Regions from separate parts of the Homo sapiens genome. Here region 1 is linked to region 2. The links come from fine-mapping of genetic effects on gene expression. A gene starts in region 2. The other region holds a variant in brackets. All regions are shown on one strand. Distances are between the middles of the regions. Region 1 overlaps RTN4IP1 (reticulon 4 interacting protein 1). Region 2 holds the start of QRSL1 (glutaminyl-tRNA amidotransferase subunit QRSL1).

Region 1 (8,000 bases), 33 kb before region 2:
CTTAAAAATTAGCAAAGACCATGTAAGCAAAATAACTTCCTCAGTGCCTATCCACATGCTGTTACTGTGTTGTATTAACATCTGGAATTAAAACAGAAGCCAACCTAAGTAACTTCTAGTGACATGGAATGTTTTCATAGATCCTTCTCAAGATTCCAACATGATTGTAAAGCCACCAAGCCATCTCAGACCTGCATAATCAACTGTCCTTGTTCCCACTCCCAGTGTGAACATTGTTCTAATACATACGGTTTTAAGGATTTCAACTGCTCTTCCACACTTCCAGATTTGTAATCAATTACATCGTCTGCACCAAGCTTCCTTACAAGTTCACTGGCATCTTGGGAGCAAACTGCTGTCACATGAGCATCCCATGCTTTCATTACCTGCCCCCCACCAAAAAGAAAAAAAGAATAAAAAAGGGAGAGATTAGAAAAACTGACTGCATTGAAAAAAAAATCATTGGCACCATGTATACATATATCAGACTAATCTCTAGAGAACTTTAAGTACGTCATCTTAACCAGAACTATAGGAAGCCATCTGTCAGAGACTAGTAAAAATGGTCAAACTTTTGTTCAGTAAGAAAATCCCAAGAAAGAGATCTCATTTTCCCTACATGAGACAGCCAGCCACCTTATTGTCATGAAGTTATAACTAATCCACTTAGAGAGGGACTCAGTGCCTCAACAGTAACAGAAAAGACAGGAGTTGAAAGCCTCAAATTTGCCAAGTGCGGTGGCTCACGCCTGTAATCCCAGCACTTTGGGAGGCCGAGACAGGTGGATCACCTGAGGTCAGGAGTTCGAGACCAGCCTGGCCAACATGGTGAAACCCCGTCTCTACTAAAAATATAAAAAATTAGCTGGACATGGTAGCGGGCGGGCACCTGTAATCCCAGCTACTTGGGTGGCCAAGGCAGGAGAATCGCTTGAACCCCGGAGGCAGAGGTTGCAGTGAGCCAAGATCGTGCCATCGCACTCCAGCCTGGGGTACAAGAGTGAGACTTCATCTCAAAAAAAAAAAAGCCTCAAATTTAGCACTTTCAAGGATAGCAAAGTTAAATGGCCCAAAAATAGTATGTCTTCAGAAAAATGACTATTTAAAATGTATACAGAACATTAAAATGCCACATATCTTCATTTGCATCTCTAATAAGTGTTAACACAATATTGAATCAGAAAGCGTGTCAAAGTAATGAGCTATTAAGTAATAGGTAACATATGAAAAGGTTCTCTTAAAAAGAAGGGGAAGAAACTATAATCATTTTTTCTTAAAAACTTGGATCAGGTCCTCTCCCTTGGAGTAAGAAAACCTAAATAAATGTTACCCAGGTTTTAAAATGCAGATGCCTTATATTTTAAAATAATAAAGAATAACTAGATTTAAATTAAAAGGAGAGCTAAATTCTAATGTTATTCAGAATTAAGTATCCAGAAAGCATTCTGCTCCAAAATTGCTAAAATTCTTTTCTATAATGTTAATTTCATAGACTTAAAAGGGGGCTATTTTCAGCTAATTTGAGAATAGCCACTTGAAGATTACTAAGAAATTTTTGTGCAGATAATTATAGATCATAAGAGATCACTTGTTTTCTCAATCTTGTCCTAAGTATCAATTTCCTGAACTTCCTTAATATAAGATATAAAGGCTCACTAGAATACAAGGGATCTGTGTTTGTCTGGTTCACTATTGAATCCCTACTCCATGGCACACAAAGGTGCTTAGTAAATTTCTGTTAAATACAAAATGTAAATAAAGGGTTTTTAACTTATTCATAATCTTACCCAATTTCTCACTTTTAAAAAGCAACATTGACCAAAGACTTATATATCCTGAAAATCTGTGGGGAATTGAAATATTTAGGAGTGATATGATATACAATTTATTGTTTATGGGCTGCAAACAGAGACACTTGAGTGTAATGATACGTTGCTTTTCACAGCAAGTCCCAAATCAAATTCAAATATGTGAAGAATATAATCCAAGATGAATAGCTCATTGTGACCATCCTTTCTCTATACCTATATTAAAAAAGAAACTATTGAGGAAAAAGAAAAGTATGTTCTAAGCACCCACATTTAATACATGTTTTTCTTTAAACAGTATTAAATCCTCAGGAAGAATCTGTCACATGTTGAAACAGGTTTTTTTCCTCAAATTTCTGGTTTTTCCCCTCAAATTTCTAGTTTTTCCTTTCCCATTTAGAGCTATTTATTATCTTTGAACATTATGAAAATGTTTTAAAAACAGTTTTACTTAATAAAAATTTTTCATGTAATATAAAACACAACTATAGAAAACACCTATAGACGGGGTGTGGTGGCTCATACCTGTAATCGCAGCACTTTGGGAGGCTGAAATGGATGGATCACTTGAGCTCAGGAGTCTGAGACCTGCCTAGGCAACGTAGTGAAACCCCGTCTCTACTAAAAATACAAAAAAGTAGCTGGGCCTGGTGATGCATGCCTGTGGTCCCAGCTACTCAGGAGGCTGAAGTGGGAGGATCGCTTGAGCCGGCGGGGGTGGAGGTTGCAGTAAGCCAAGGTCGTACCACTGCACTCCAGCCTGGGTGACAGAGTGAGATTCTGTCTCAAAAAACAAAAAACAAAAAAAGAAAGAAAGAAAGAAAACAGCTATAGGGTGAACACCACCCAGATAAAGCAGCAGCACACTGGAAGCTATGCCAAAAATTCTCCCATGTGCCCCAAACCACAGAAGCCCCTCCTACCCTTTCCCAAAATAATTATTCTGATTTTTATAGTAATCACCTCCTTGCATTTCAAAAAGTTTATCACCCAACAATGCAGTCTCTAGACACTATAGTCTTGTGCATTCTTAAAACGTGGTATCTTTTAAATCTCTTTTTTTATTATTTATTTTTGGGTTGTTTTGGTTTTTTATTTGAGACAGTCTCACTCTGTTGCCCAGGCTAGAGTGCAGTGGCATGATCTCGGCTCACTGCAACCTCCACCTCCCAGGTTCAGGTGATTCTCCTGCCCTCAGCCTCCCGAGTAGCTGGCACTACAGGCACGTCACACCACGCCTGGCTAATTTTTGTATTTTTAGTAGATATGGGATTTCACCAGGTTGGCCAGGCTGGTCTTGAACTCCTGAGCTCACGTGATCCACCCGCCTTGGCCTCCCAAAATGCTGGGATTACAGGTGTGAGCCACTGTGCCCGGCCTTAAGTCTCTTTTAAATCATAGGCTCCTGTTCTATCCCTTTGCTTTCCTATAATTTATCTATGGAAGAATCTAGGCCATTTGATCTGTGGAGTTTCCCACAGTCTGGAATTTCTAACTGCACACCCACGGGACAGTTCCACACGTCGCTCTGTCCTCTGTATTTTCTGCAACTCGGCAGATGGATCTGGAGACTAGATCTGATTCCATTTCAATCCCTTTAGCAAAACTATGGACAGTGTCTGGCAAAACTAGAGGAGGCACATCATGTCTGCTTGAGGCTCTCTTTATTATCTTAGCAGCTGTCAATGCTTAATACCCATATCTGCTTATTGGTGGTTGCGAAATAGTGATCTTCTAATTCTACTTCTTTTATTTAAGTAGTTGGAATACTTTCTTTCTTTTTTTTTTTTTTTGTGGGGGACAGTCTCGCTCTGTCCCAGGCTAGAGTGCAGTGGCGTGATCTCTGCCCACTGCAACCTCTGCCTCCTAGGTTCAAGCAATTCTCCTGCCTCAGCCTCCCGAGTAGCTG[A/G]GATTACAGGTGCCCACCACCACGCCCGGCTAATTCTTGTATTTTTATTAGAGAAGGGGTTTCGCCATGTTGGCCAGGCTGGTCTGGAACCCTTGACCTGAGGTGATCTGCCCGCCTTGGCATCCCAAAGTGCTGAGATTACAGGCATGAGCCAACGCGTCCAGCCTGAATACTTTCACAAAATAACACTGCCCCTCATATCACTGCCCCTCACATATTATTTTGTCTGCTCAATTATACAGTTAATGTAGGAAAGGCAAGACAAATGCTTAACTGTTTTTCTTTATCAGTTTATAAGATAATAAATTGGTTCCCTATCAAATTCCAAAAGTGACCTCTTTTGAAAAAAGTATCATGAACTCATGGATTTAAATATATTTAAAAGGTTTCAACCCATTGTAATGGTCATTATTATTACTGAAGCTCAAACTGTTACATCTTTGGGCATTTCTTCAAGTTAGCTCTTGAGTCTTTTGACATGACCTGACTAGTCTTTGATATCTTCCTTGCTATTTAATATACTCCAGGTTAATTCTTTATATTTGTGCTCTAGATCTGAAATCAGCTACTTCTCTAAGAAGCCCTGCCTTGTTTCAGTGAGAAATGATATTTCAAGTGATGGCTTTACATACACACATACACAAAATATCTCTTGAGTTCATATTGATACTTCCAATTCTAATTTGAGACTACAAAATCCCAGCACTTTGGGAGGCTGAGGCAGGAAGGTTGCTTGAGGCCAGGAATTTGAGACCAGCCCAGGCAACACAGCAAGACCCCATCGCTACAAAAACGTGAAAAAATTAGCTGGGCATGGTGGCATGTGCCTGTAGTTCTACCTACTCAGGAGTTTGGGGTGAGAGGATCATTGAGCCCAGGAGGTTGAGGTTGCAGTGAGCTGTGATCATGTCACTGCATCTCAGCCTGGATGACAGAGCAACACACTGTCTCAAAAATAATGACAACTATTGCACTGTATTTACCTTATCAGAACATATGGCTGTTCCTACACTCTCTCCTTCTAAGCCCTCATTTAGTTTTGTTCTACAGGTAATTGTGTTGAACATTTACCACTAGTCCTTAAAATGTCTTCATAGTCATTCCTAGTCAGAAGCTCATTATCTAGTAGATTCCTCAGAAAAGGATCAGAAGAACAATATTCCCCACGTTCTTCATGTTGATAACAGTCTGTATGTGTCCATGATACCTGAAGGCCTGTTTTGTTGTATAAAAGATTCTTGGCGCACTCTTCCTTGAGTATCTTAAATATGTTACTCCATTTTTTTCTGCCAAAAGTGTTACTGCCAAAAAGTCTCATGATAGTCTAATTTTATTTCTCTTATAAGTCACGTCATCTTTTTTCTTATATGGACACATAAGTAGCACATGTGCTATTTTGTCTAGATTTCCAAAGGATCTTATTTCTTTTTTCTTTAAAGGCCAGTAATTTCACTATAATTTTTCTCCACATTTTTATTAGTAATTTTCCTTAGTGTTGCTCAGTCTGGGTCCATGTCCTTAGAAAAGTGATGTGTCTATTCAATATGTAATTTCAAATCATTTAATTTCAGGACAGTAGGAAAGTTTCTTTAATTATTGTTTTAATATGGGTTCAATTCCCTTGCTTTGGTTTTCCCCTTCGAGGACTCCTAGTATCCATATATCAATTTTCCTTGCCTGTCATCAATATTTGATACTTTCTCTTGACTCTGTTTTTATCTTTTTCTGTTTTTTTGAGATAGGTCTCACTCTGTCCAGGCTGAAGTGCAGTGGTGTGATCACAGCTCACTGCAGCCTCGACCTCCTGGGCTCAAGTGATCCTCACACCTCAGCCTCTCCATAGCTGGGATTACAGGTATGAGCCACCATGCCCAGCTAATTTTTGTATTTTTTGTAGAGACGAGGTTTTGCCATGTTGCCCAGGCTGGTCCTGAATCGCTGAGCTCAAGCAATCTGCCCTCCTCAGCCTAGCAAAGTGCTGGGATTACAGGGTGAGCCACTGTGCCCAGCCTATCTTTTTGTTTCTTTTGTAATTTGAATTTTTTTCTGCATTTTGTTTCTTTTTTTTTTTTTTTAATTATACTTTAAGTTTTAGGGTACATGTGCACATTGTGCAGGTTAGTTACATATGTATACATGTGCCATTCTGGTGCGCTGCACCCACTAACTCGTCATCTAGCATTAGGTATATCTCCCAACGCTATCCCTCCCCGCTCCCCGCACCCCACCACAGTCCCCAGAGTGTGATATTCCCCTTCCTGTGTCCATGTGATCTCATTGTTCAATTCCCACCTATGAGTGAGAATATGCGGTGTTTGGTTTTCTGTTCTTGCGATAGTTTACTGAGAATGATGATTTCCAATTTCATCCATGTCCCTACAAAGGGCATGAACTCATCATTTTTTATGGCTGCATAGTATTCCATGGTGTATATGTGCCAAATTTTCTTAATCCAGTCTATCATTGTTGGACATTTGGGTTGGTTCCAAGTCTTTGCTATTGTGAATAATGCCGCAATAAACATACGTGTGCATGTGTCTTTATAGTAGCATGATTTATAGTCATTTGGGTATATACCCAGTAATGGGATGGCTGGGTCAAATGGTATTTCTAGCTCTAGATCCCTGAGGAATCGCCACACTGACTTCCACGATGGTTGAACTAGTTTACAGTCCCACCAACAGTGTAAAAGTGTTCCTATTTCTCCACATCTTCTCCAGCACCTGTTGTTTCCTGACTTTTTAATGATTGCCATTCTAACTGGTGTGAGATGATATCTCATAGTGGTTTTGATTTGCATTTCTCTGATGGCCAGTGATGATGAGCATTTTTTCATGTGTTTTTTGGCTGCATAAATGTCTTCTTTTGAGAAGTGTCTGTTCATGTCCTTCGCCCACTTTTTGATGGGGTTGTTTGTTTTTTCCTTGTAAATTTGTTTGAGTTCATTGTAGATTCTGGATATTAGCCCTTTGTCAGATGAGTAGGTTGCGAAAATTTTCTCCCACGTTGTAGGCTGCCTGTTCACTCTGATGGTAGTTTCTTTTGCTGTGCAGAAGCTCTTTAGTTTAATTAGATCCCATTTGTCAATTTTGTCTTTTGTTGCCATTGCTTTTGGTGTTTTGGACATGAAGTCCTTGCCCATGCCTATGTCCTGAATGGTAATGCCTAGGTTTTCTTCTAGGGTTTTTATGGTTTTAGGTCTAACGTTTAAATCTTTAATCCATCTTGAATTGATTTTTGTATAAGGTGTAAGGAAGGGATCCATGCATTTTGTTTCTATTAAGGAGCATTATGTGTTGTGTTTACTTGCTATTGAGTTCCTCTTAGTTTAGTCTTCTATTACTAAATGATTTTTTCATTTAGTTTTACTTTTTTCCTGATTTTTTCCTATTCTGATTTATTTTGTTTTTTTCACATCTTGTATTATATTTTTAATGTCTTTTAACTTGCTTTGAAATAGTAGGTGACATTTCAGGCTGTTCTGTAGGCATGTATTCTGATGTGCTTTTATTATAGGGCATGTTATTCTATACCTTATTTTCCCTTTCCTTATAATAGCTTTGTATGGGATTTAACCTTGATGCTTTTCTATTACTTTTTAATTTTATTAAAATTTTTTGTTGTAAAATATAATACAAATAAAAGCATACAGAATATAAATATACAGCTTAACAAATTATTACAAAGCAAATATTATTATAACCACTATTCAAAATTAAGAATTAGAATACCACCTGTGTCCCTAAGCCTCCCAATTAAAACCTCCTCAACTCCCTTAAAAAGTAACTACTAACTGGACCTTTAGTGTAACCCTTTTTGCTTTTTTTTTTTTTTAAGAAGTTTTACTAAGTAGACACCACCCTTAAACACCACTGCTTAGTTTCACTTGTTCTTGAATGTCATTAAATGGAACGATATAGGATGTACTTTTGCATCTGATTTCTTTTACTCAACACTCGGTTGTGGTATTCATCCACTTCACTGTGTGCAATTATAGTTTTTTCATGACTGCATAATATTCCAATGTAAGAATATACCACAATTTACTTACTCATTTTACTGTTGATGGACATTTGGGTTTTTCTAGTTGGGGAATTTTAACAGGAATAGCCCTGCTCTGAAATTCTGGTACATATCTTTTGGTAAACATACTTGTATATCTATCTATAGGTTATAATCCTAAAATAGGAATTCTTGTGCTGTCCTTTTTTTTTTTTTTAGAAATTTTACAATTTATATTGACATTTAGTAGATGCCAAATGGTTTTCTTAAGTGGCTGTATC
Region 2 (9,026 bases):
TTCAGGAGTTCAAAACCAGCCTAGAGCTCATCTCTACTAAAAATTTTAAAAATTAGCCAGGCATAGTGGTACATGCCTGTAATCCCAGCTACTCAGGAGGCTGAGGCAGGAGGATTGCTTGAGCCCAGGAGTTTGAGACTGCAGTGAGCCATGATCACACCACTGCACTCCAGCCCAGGTGACAAAGCAAAGCTCTGTCTCAAAAAAAAAAAAAAAAGAAAAAGAAAAAGAAAAAGAAAAAGAATACTTATATAAATATCAGCTAAATAAAACTGAAAACATTCTTTTAATTTTTTGGTTCAAGTAAATTTGCTACTCTATAATAATCCAGAGTAATTTATTACATGGCTTCCATATACAACGTGACTTTTCTCAGACCCAAAAGTATCTGTTATTCTCTCTTCTGCTTGACCTTTTTTTGAGAACCTGTCTGCCATGTGAGGCTTTCCATGATAGGCACCCTGCCTACCTCTCCAGTGTCATGTACCACTCACTCCCTGCCCCACAACGCATGCTCCACAGTCACTAACCCACTCTGTACGTCTCCCCTTGCCCCGCACCCACTCCTGTGGGCAATCCATTAGATCTTAGGGATGAGGAGAAAGCAGCAAAGGAGACTAAGGCGGCAGTTTAAAGACATTCAATGCTGCTGACGGGAGACAGGTTTTCAAATAAGGTCCAAAGATGCTAAGAGGCTTTAAAACAAACAAACAAGCCTGGATCTAACAGACCTTTGGTAACCCTGCCAGGAGCAACTGCTGTGTAGTGCACTTTTGAGAGAATGGGAAATAAGGGACTGGAGACATGAGAAGACTGAACTCTCTTTAAAACAGTTTTGTTGCAAAGGGAGCAGAGAAATGGAGCAGTAGCTCGAAGTGGGAACTGGGATGGACAGAGGACTTTTGAGTGGCTTTTTTCTTTTTTTTCTTTTTTTTTTTTTTTTTTTTGAGACAGAGTCTTGCTCTGTTGCCCAGGCTGGAGTGCAATGGCGTGATCTCGGCTCACTGCAACTTCCGCCTCCCGGGTTCAAGCGATTCTGCTGTCTCAGCCTCCTGAGTAGCTGGGATTACAGGCATGCGCCACCACGCCTGGCTAATTTTTAGTAGAGACGGGGTTTCTCCATGTTGATCAGGATGGTCTCGAACTCCTGATCTCAGGTGATCCACCTGCCTCGGCCTCCCAAAGTGCTGGAATTACAGGTGTGAGCCACTGTGCCCAGCCTTTTCCTTCTTCTTAAGAAAGGAGAAATAACAGCAAGTCTGTATACTAATGGAGATGATCCAGTAGAAAAGAAAAGACTGATGATGCAGGAGACACCTGCCGGAATGATATCCCAGAGTAGGTGAGGGGGATGGGATCAGAAACACAAGCCGAGGGCTGGCCTTATGTGAAAGCAGTGACAGCTAATCCATACAGCAGGAGGGAAGGTAGAAGATACCGAGAGAGATGCTGACAGGTGGGTAGCTTGCATGAGTTGTGTTACTAATAAAAAATCAAGACACATGGGATAAAGTGTTTGAAAGGTGGGAAAGTCCCAGAAAATCTAAGCTGATGGCCATTATACCAACATTACAACATTTGCCATCTGGGGAGTCAGGATTATACTCTGTCAGGGAAAAAAAAAACAACTTCACTTGTAATATTCACAAAAGTCATGTGCTTCACTTTTCCTGCCTTACATTCCTTTTCCACTGCTAAAGATAATTAAACAATTATTCACTGAAACTTCTATGTGGTTTGAACAACAGAAGTGGACATTTAGTCGTGTCAAACTTTAGCTGCTGTTTAAGAGCTGCAGAAAGGTTTCAGTCCTCTTTGAGATACAGAGCCTGCAGCCCAAGGTTGTTTTTAGTTTTCTTGGTCCCCTGATAATGCTAATACATCAACTGAGTAGCCTTGGCTCACTGTTACTATCTAACAAGCCCCTGAACCCAGAATGTAGTCAGCTGGCAGTTAGTAATTGAGAACCTGTTTGGTGACACGGATGACTGAATGGGGCCCTTAAGTGTTCCATCCTATTGACAGGGGTTGACACCTTGACTTGTTCAGAGAGTTGGGCCAATTTGAAAAATCCTAAATCTGTCATCAGTTTAAAGACTTTAATCCCATCTAAAGACACCAAACTTTGTTGGTATGATGCTGTTGGCTGCATTTTTTCCCCATGTAAAAATTCTTCATTTCTTTAGCCATTTCTATGATTTATTATTTTACGTCCAACAGTAGTGGCCGTCTCCAGAAAAACAGCCAGCCTTCATCTTTCAAATAAAATAGACATGTCTCTTGCTTTCTTGCCAAGGGAAATAACTGCTTCCTACAGTTTACAGTCTTCTACTCATTATTTTATTTCCCCAAGCTACTGTTTCAGATATCTTCTGCAATGACAATAAATATCCTCAAAAGGTAGGAGAAAAAAAAAAAGAGGATAACTTGCGAATAATATTACCCATTCAAGTCATAAAAAACTAAGATGTTTCAAGAATACTATATAAAAGTAAAATGTTTTACAGTGTTATATTATTAAACAGCAGCCAAGAAAAGTCTAGATACAGCCATTCTGTTTAAATGAAAATGTACACGGCATGAATTACGCATGTGCATTTAAAGAAATAAAAAGCTAACAGACCTAAACGAAGACAAAATGTAAAAATTACTCATAGATAAAATACTGCTAATTTAAGTTTGTTATCTTAAGTCAGAACAAAAATATAAAAAGGCATAGAAATAGTGACTGAATGACAACTGCGTATGTGAAGCACTGAAACAGGTTGACAAAGCATGGGATCAATCTTGAAAGAACTTACAATCAAAGGAGATGAAAAAACATGCTGATCATTGAGTAAAACTTACCACTAAAAGACATATCTTATAAAAAACTGAATTCTCTTCAAGCCTAATATAAAAAGAATAAAGGAAAACGGCATGCCCAACTGGTAGTAGCAATTACTACTTCAAAACAAAGAATACAAACGTAGACTTCATGAGACAATCACAGTAAAGTCATTTCAATGCTTTTTTTTTTTTTTTTTTTTTTTTTTTTGAGATGGAGTCTCACTCTATCGGCAGGCTGGAGTGCAAGGGCGCGTTCTTGGCTCACTGCAACCTCCGCCTTCCGGATTCAAGCGATTCTCCTGCCTCAGCCTCCCACCAACACAGTGAAACTCCCGTTTCTATAAAAATACAAAAATTAGCTGGGTGTGGCGGCGCATGTCTGTAGTCCCAGCTACTTGGGAGGCTGAAGCAGGAGAATCGCTTGAACCCGGAAGGCGGAGGTTGCAGTGAGCCAGGAAAGCGCCCTTGCACTCCAGCCTGCCGATAGAGTGAGACTCTGTCTCAAAAACAAACAAAAAACCCCATAAATTCTAAACTGACTAGGAAACAACTATACTTCCGAAGCCTGTGACGGATCTCAGAATACCACAAAGTTCCCTGGACAGAAATTTAGCTACAAACATAGGCAGGGCGCAATGGCTCGTCTGTAATCCCAGCACTTAGGGGGCGGAGGCAGAGGATCGCCTGAGGTCAGGAGTTCGAGACCAGCCTGACCAACATAGTGAAACCCCATCTCTACTAAAAATACAAAAAATTAGCCCGGTGTGGTGGCATGCGCCTGTAATCCCAGCTACTCGGGAGGCTGAGGCAGGAGAAATTGCTTGAACCCAGGATGCGGAGGTTGCAGTGAGCTGAGATCAGGCCACCGCACTCTAGCCTGGGTGACAGAGTGAGACTCAGTCTCAAAAAAAAAAAAGTTAGCTACAGACACAGTTCTCAAGTCTGAACTTACATATTTAAGGACGCATGAAAACAATCAAGCTTATATTTTGTCAATACAAATGGCCAGAAGGATTCCCTGGCCATTGCAATTTCAAAAATTTTGGAAATATTTGCAGAGGTATTGTTAAAAACCTAAATGATTCATTTATGTAAACCAAAGAAGCGTAGTCAATTTTTTAAAACGGCATACCTTATGAAAGTGATTTTTTTAAAAAAGGTAACAATGTCTTTTGAAAACTTACTTCTCATATTAACGTCTATAGGATTTACACTGGCAGCGTGAACTTTGACAATGACTTCATTTGGATAGTGTATGATAGGCATCATCATGTTCTGAGTGAATCGAAGCACTTCATTCTTCCCATATTTATCTATCACCCAAGCAGGCATGACAGTGCTCCTAGGAGAGGTAGTACTAATCCTTCTAACTGAAGGCTTTTGGACAACTTTGCTTCTCCAGAAGCAAACCGCAGTGCATGCATTTCTTCTAAGTACACAAGTCTTCAGAAATTCCATTGTAAACACTGGTTGAACTGCGTGCTCAAATTCAAATACACTTGGACTGGATCAAACTCTCACCCCTGAATTCAGTCAAATTCTGCCAAACCACGGGCTAGTTTCAAAATTAAGCATGCAAAACGGAGCATTCGAAAATGAAGCTAATCTAATGGAGAAACTGAAAGAAGAATACGGAACTGTTATTCCGCTCTTCGCATATGAAATGCTCGAATTAACGTTCCAGTCAGTATTCTGTCCATTCTCCTCCCTCACTTTCACCCCCTCCACTTTAAAAAAAAAAGGGGGGGCGGGGCATTAAAAAGCAGGTGCGCAAACCCCCTAGATCCCTGCCCTGTCCTGGGAGCCCTCGGCGGGACAAGCAGACACCGCTCGCGATCCAACGCCAGAGAATCGAACGCTTGCCGACTGCCGCCGCGACCCTGGCCCGGAATCTCCTTGCCTGCCCGCTCTCCTTAGCCGCCGGGATGGCTTTGCGGCGCCAACCAATCGCCTACAAAGATCATTTCCTCGGGCTGCAATTCAACCAATCCAAGTACTCGGTGTTGAAGGGCTCAGTGACAATTAAAGATGGCTGCGCCCATGTAACATCACTAGCGACCGGTGACCTCTTTTTCCCCCTTGCCTGGCTCCTGTGGTGGCAGGCTGGGCACGAGGACCATGCTGGGCCGGAGCCTCCGAGAAGTGAGTGGAATTGGCCCGCTGAGGCCCCCGGGAGGGCGGAAAGTTTAACGGACTTCGTTGACAAAGAGTCCCTGGGCCTTACCACGCATCTTGGCCCACCTCGCTGCTTCCTCTAGAACTGAGTGGGGGATAAGTACCTTTCGATTCTTCGGGTGTACTCGCCGTACCCATTCAGGAGTTAGGACCTTAGCAGGGAAATCTCTGCACCGCGGATCTGTAGGGTGGTGAAGCGGCTTCTCACCATTAGACATTTGCTCTGGTGTAGGTCGGGATCCGGATGGTCTCGGAGTGGGCTTTGCCAAAGGGGGCTTGCGGGGCCACTTCAGTCTCTCTTCTGTCCCCGACACTTAGCTGCAGTTGTCGCTAAGAAGCCCGGCGAAACTGTAGTTTGCAAAATTCAAATGAGTAATTTTTGGCTTTTTTCAAAGAATTCGTTCTCTAGGATTTACCTACCACTAAGATACCAGTGATTTCCTAACCCGTGTCTCCATGTCCTGGACGTCGTGTTTGAATTCTAGACTGTATTTGTGAATGCTTTCTGGGCAGTTCTTCTAAATGTCACATAAGCACCCTCAAATTCACTTTAATCGGTGTTGAAGTAATCATTGTAACAGGACTTACCTCTCAACCCCCGTCTTAAAAAAGCTCTGGTATTTCTGAATTCTTAATAGACTCTTTTTAATGGCACAACTATTATCTCATTTGCCTTTAGATTCTTCCTCATCTTTCATATCCAATAAATCACTAAGCCCTCTTCATTCTATCTTGCAGATATGGCTGGAATCTGCCCTCTTACGTTATTTCTGCTGTTATAGCTTTAATTCGGGTCTTTTTGCTTCCTGGTTCACGTCACTCAACCTTAGAACTGTCTGCAGGCCCATTGCTATCAGAGTCACATAAAGCACCTGTTGAAACTAAAACTATGCCCCACTCTAGACTTAATTAGAGCTGTGTGGTAAGTTCGGGAGTATGGTTTAATGGAGGCTCCAGGTGATTTCTGGTAAGAAGTAGGCGCTGATGACCTAAACTGCCTTCCATCTTCCTTTTTATTCCACCCTAGAAGTTGTCGTTTTGTTTGTTTCCCAGCTGGCAGCGTGGAATTATAATTATAGATAGCTGTAATATATAATGAGAAATTGAAATCCACAGGCTTTAAATAATAGTTCTTCCCCCAAAATACATTATTATGTTATCATTTTAAATTGCGTCGAATCAAATTTGTTCTTTAAAAAATAAATATGCCCGGCGCGGTGGCTCACGCCTGTAATCCCAGCACTTTGGGAGGCCGAGGCGGGTGGATCACGAGGTCAGGAGATCGAGACCATCCTGGCTAACACGGTGAAACCCCATTTCTACTAAATATACAAAAAATTAGCCGGGCGTAGTGGCGGGCGCCTGTAGTCCCAGCTACTCGGGAGGCTGAGGCAGGAGAATGGCGTGAACCCGGGAGGCGGAGCTTGCAGTGAGCCAAGATCACGCCACTGCACTCCAGCCTGGGCGGCAGAGCAAGACTCCGTCTCAAAAAATAAATAAATAAAATAAAAATAAATAAACAGACAACACCCAAAACTTGTTTTAAAATTAAATACAACCTATAAAAATATGTTATTTCCTTTTTCTGCCTTTTCCACTGTCAATCTAAGTAACAGAAAGAGACTCTAAAGAAAATATTTATTTTGGAGTAGCAATGCAATGGGAATATGTGTAATATTGTAAACTATGTGCCTATTCAAGAAGGTTGAGGCAAGGGATGTTTTTAAAGACAGAATGAGAAGGATTACTTAAATTATTTTGAATCAGTTATCCTTGGCCACAAGGATCAGTCACAAAGGTGGCATCAGTCCAAGGTTGGATGGCCAGTTGCTGGACAGACATTCTTACAGAAGTACTCGTGTGTGTGGAAGGTTGCAATGGCCTTTGTGCAAGGTTGTGTTTTTTGCAGTCTTATGATTGTTTTTAAAAAAAAATTTTAATGGGTACATAGTAGGTGTATGTATTTATGGGGCACATGAGATATTTTGATACAGGCATACAATGCATAATAATCACATCAGAGTAAATGGTGTATCCATCACCTCAAGCATTTATCATTTCTTTGTGTTACAAACGTTCCAGTTATACTCTTTTAGTTATTTTTAAACGTACAATAAACTATTGTTGACTGTAATCACCTGCTGTGCTATCAAATACTGTATCTTATTCATTCTGTCTAACTATATTTTGTACCCATTACCCATCCCCACTTCCCACCCCTACTACTACCCTTTCAGGCCTCTAGTAACCATCATTCTACTCTACCTCCACGAGGTCAATTGTTTTCATTTTTAGCTCCCACAAATAGGTGAGAACATGGGAAGTTTGTCTTTCTGTGCCTGGCTTATTTCACTTAACATAATGCCCTCCAGTTCCATCCATGTTGTTGCAATTGACAAGCTCTCGTTCTTTTTATGGCTGAATAGTACTCCATTGTGTACATGTAGGACATTTTCTCTATCCATTCATCTGTTGGTAGATACTTAGCTTGCTTTCAAATCTTGGCTATTGTGAATAGTGCTGCAATAAACATGAGAGAGCAGATATGTCTTTGCTATGTTGATTTTCTTTCTTTTAGGTGCATATATACGTAGCAGTGGGATTGCTGGATCGTATGGTAGTTCTATTTTTATTTATTTATTTTTAATTATTTTTTTTTTAGAGATGGGGTCTCACTATGTTGGCCAGGTTGGTCTTGAATTCTTGGCTTCAAGCAATCCTCCTCCCTCAGCCTCCCAAAGTGCTAGGATTACAGGTGTGAGCCACTGTGCCCAACCAGTAGTTCTATTTTTAGGTTTTTAAGGCACCTCCATACTATTCTCCATAGTGGCTGTAGTAATTTACATTTCATCCAACTTTTCTCCATCCTCACCAGCATTCATTATTGCCTGTCTTTTGGATAGAAGCTATTTTAACTGGAGTGAGATGATATCTCATTGTAGTTTTGATTTGCAATTCTCTGATGATCAGTGATGTTGAGCACATTTTCATATACCAGTTTGCCATTTATATGTCTTTCTTTTGAGAAATGTCTATTCCAATCTTTTGCCCATTTTTAATTTGATTATTGGATTTTTTCCTGTTGAGTTGTTTGAACTCCTTATATACTTCGGTTATCAATCCCTTGTCAGCTGGAGTGTGATAGTTCTTCTTATCAGGCATTCATGCGTGAGAACCCTCTCTTCTTGACCTTCCTTGGCTCCATTTGTCAGGATTTTAACACAAGTCACTCTATTTTGATTTTGACAACTGTCATAGCTCCTTAAGTGCTACCTTTTTTAGTGCTACTTCTCTCTGGTGTCATTGAGTTAGCCATTGTGAAAAACAACTTTTGCCGCATGGGGGGAGAAAAGAACTATTTAGGAGAGCTGACCCAGGGGAAAATCCAGAGGTTGCCTTGGCATGATTGCTTTTACTTTATCACTCCTTTAACAAATACTGATTAATGCCTAGCATGCAAAATATTTGGTGGTTATTTCCCCAGCTCTAAAACTACCTTCTGTCTACTTTGTATTTTTTCCACATCACTGTACTGTTGCCCTAAATTCTACCAATTAGAGATTAATTAATTCATACAAATTATCTTTTAATTTAATTCTCTTTTAAATATGTACAGATGCCTGGGAAGGTTGAACAATTTTTCCACCCATTGTTGTAAATTATAACAGTTCAAATTTCTTCATAATACCTTAATTGAGATAATCAGTTGAAGAGGGGGAAATTTGCGGGGAATTAGGGAGAAGGGCTGGAAATGATGGCAGCAATTTGGGGGATGTGAGTGGAAGCTTATGGTAACAGGAGTCCTGGGAATAGGCACAAAAAGGAGGTAAAATGCCAAATAGGTAAAATTCCCATTTGTAAATTTTACCCAAGTACATTCAGAAAGGGGGAGGAAATCTCACTTTTACCTTTGTCTTTTGTGGCATGATCCCAGTGTTTCTAGGAGTGAGGCACCAGGCTAATATTATTAATCCTAAAGTTTAAAGAATGATATATTCATTTGGCTTCTTGGAGCTTCAACT

The links. PIP is the estimated chance that this variant, and not a neighbour inherited with it, causes the effect.
Region 1: its variant is the best candidate, but not a certain one, in a credible set for the expression of QRSL1 in prefrontal cortex (BrainSeq, PIP 0.56).

Annotation. Positions count from the first base shown.
Region 1 is chr6:106,591,915-106,599,914 of GRCh38, forward strand. It overlaps RTN4IP1 (reticulon 4 interacting protein 1), which reads right to left. Exons shown (of 9, transcript NM_032730.5): 6 at 250-386. Among named protein-coding and RNA genes, the nearest start is that of RTN4IP1, 34 kb to the right of the region's middle. The variant A/G (reference allele first, on the strand shown) is at 3,718.
Region 2 is chr6:106,624,735-106,633,760 of GRCh38, forward strand. It overlaps QRSL1 (glutaminyl-tRNA amidotransferase subunit QRSL1), which reads left to right and starts at 4,844. Exons shown (of 11, transcript NM_018292.5): 1 at 4,844-4,971. The coding sequence starts at 4,948. It overlaps RTN4IP1 (reticulon 4 interacting protein 1), which reads right to left and starts at 4,764. Exons shown (of 9, transcript NM_032730.5): 1 at 4,014-4,764. The coding sequence starts at 4,287. RefSeq lists enhancers at 4,846-4,985, 5,016-5,075.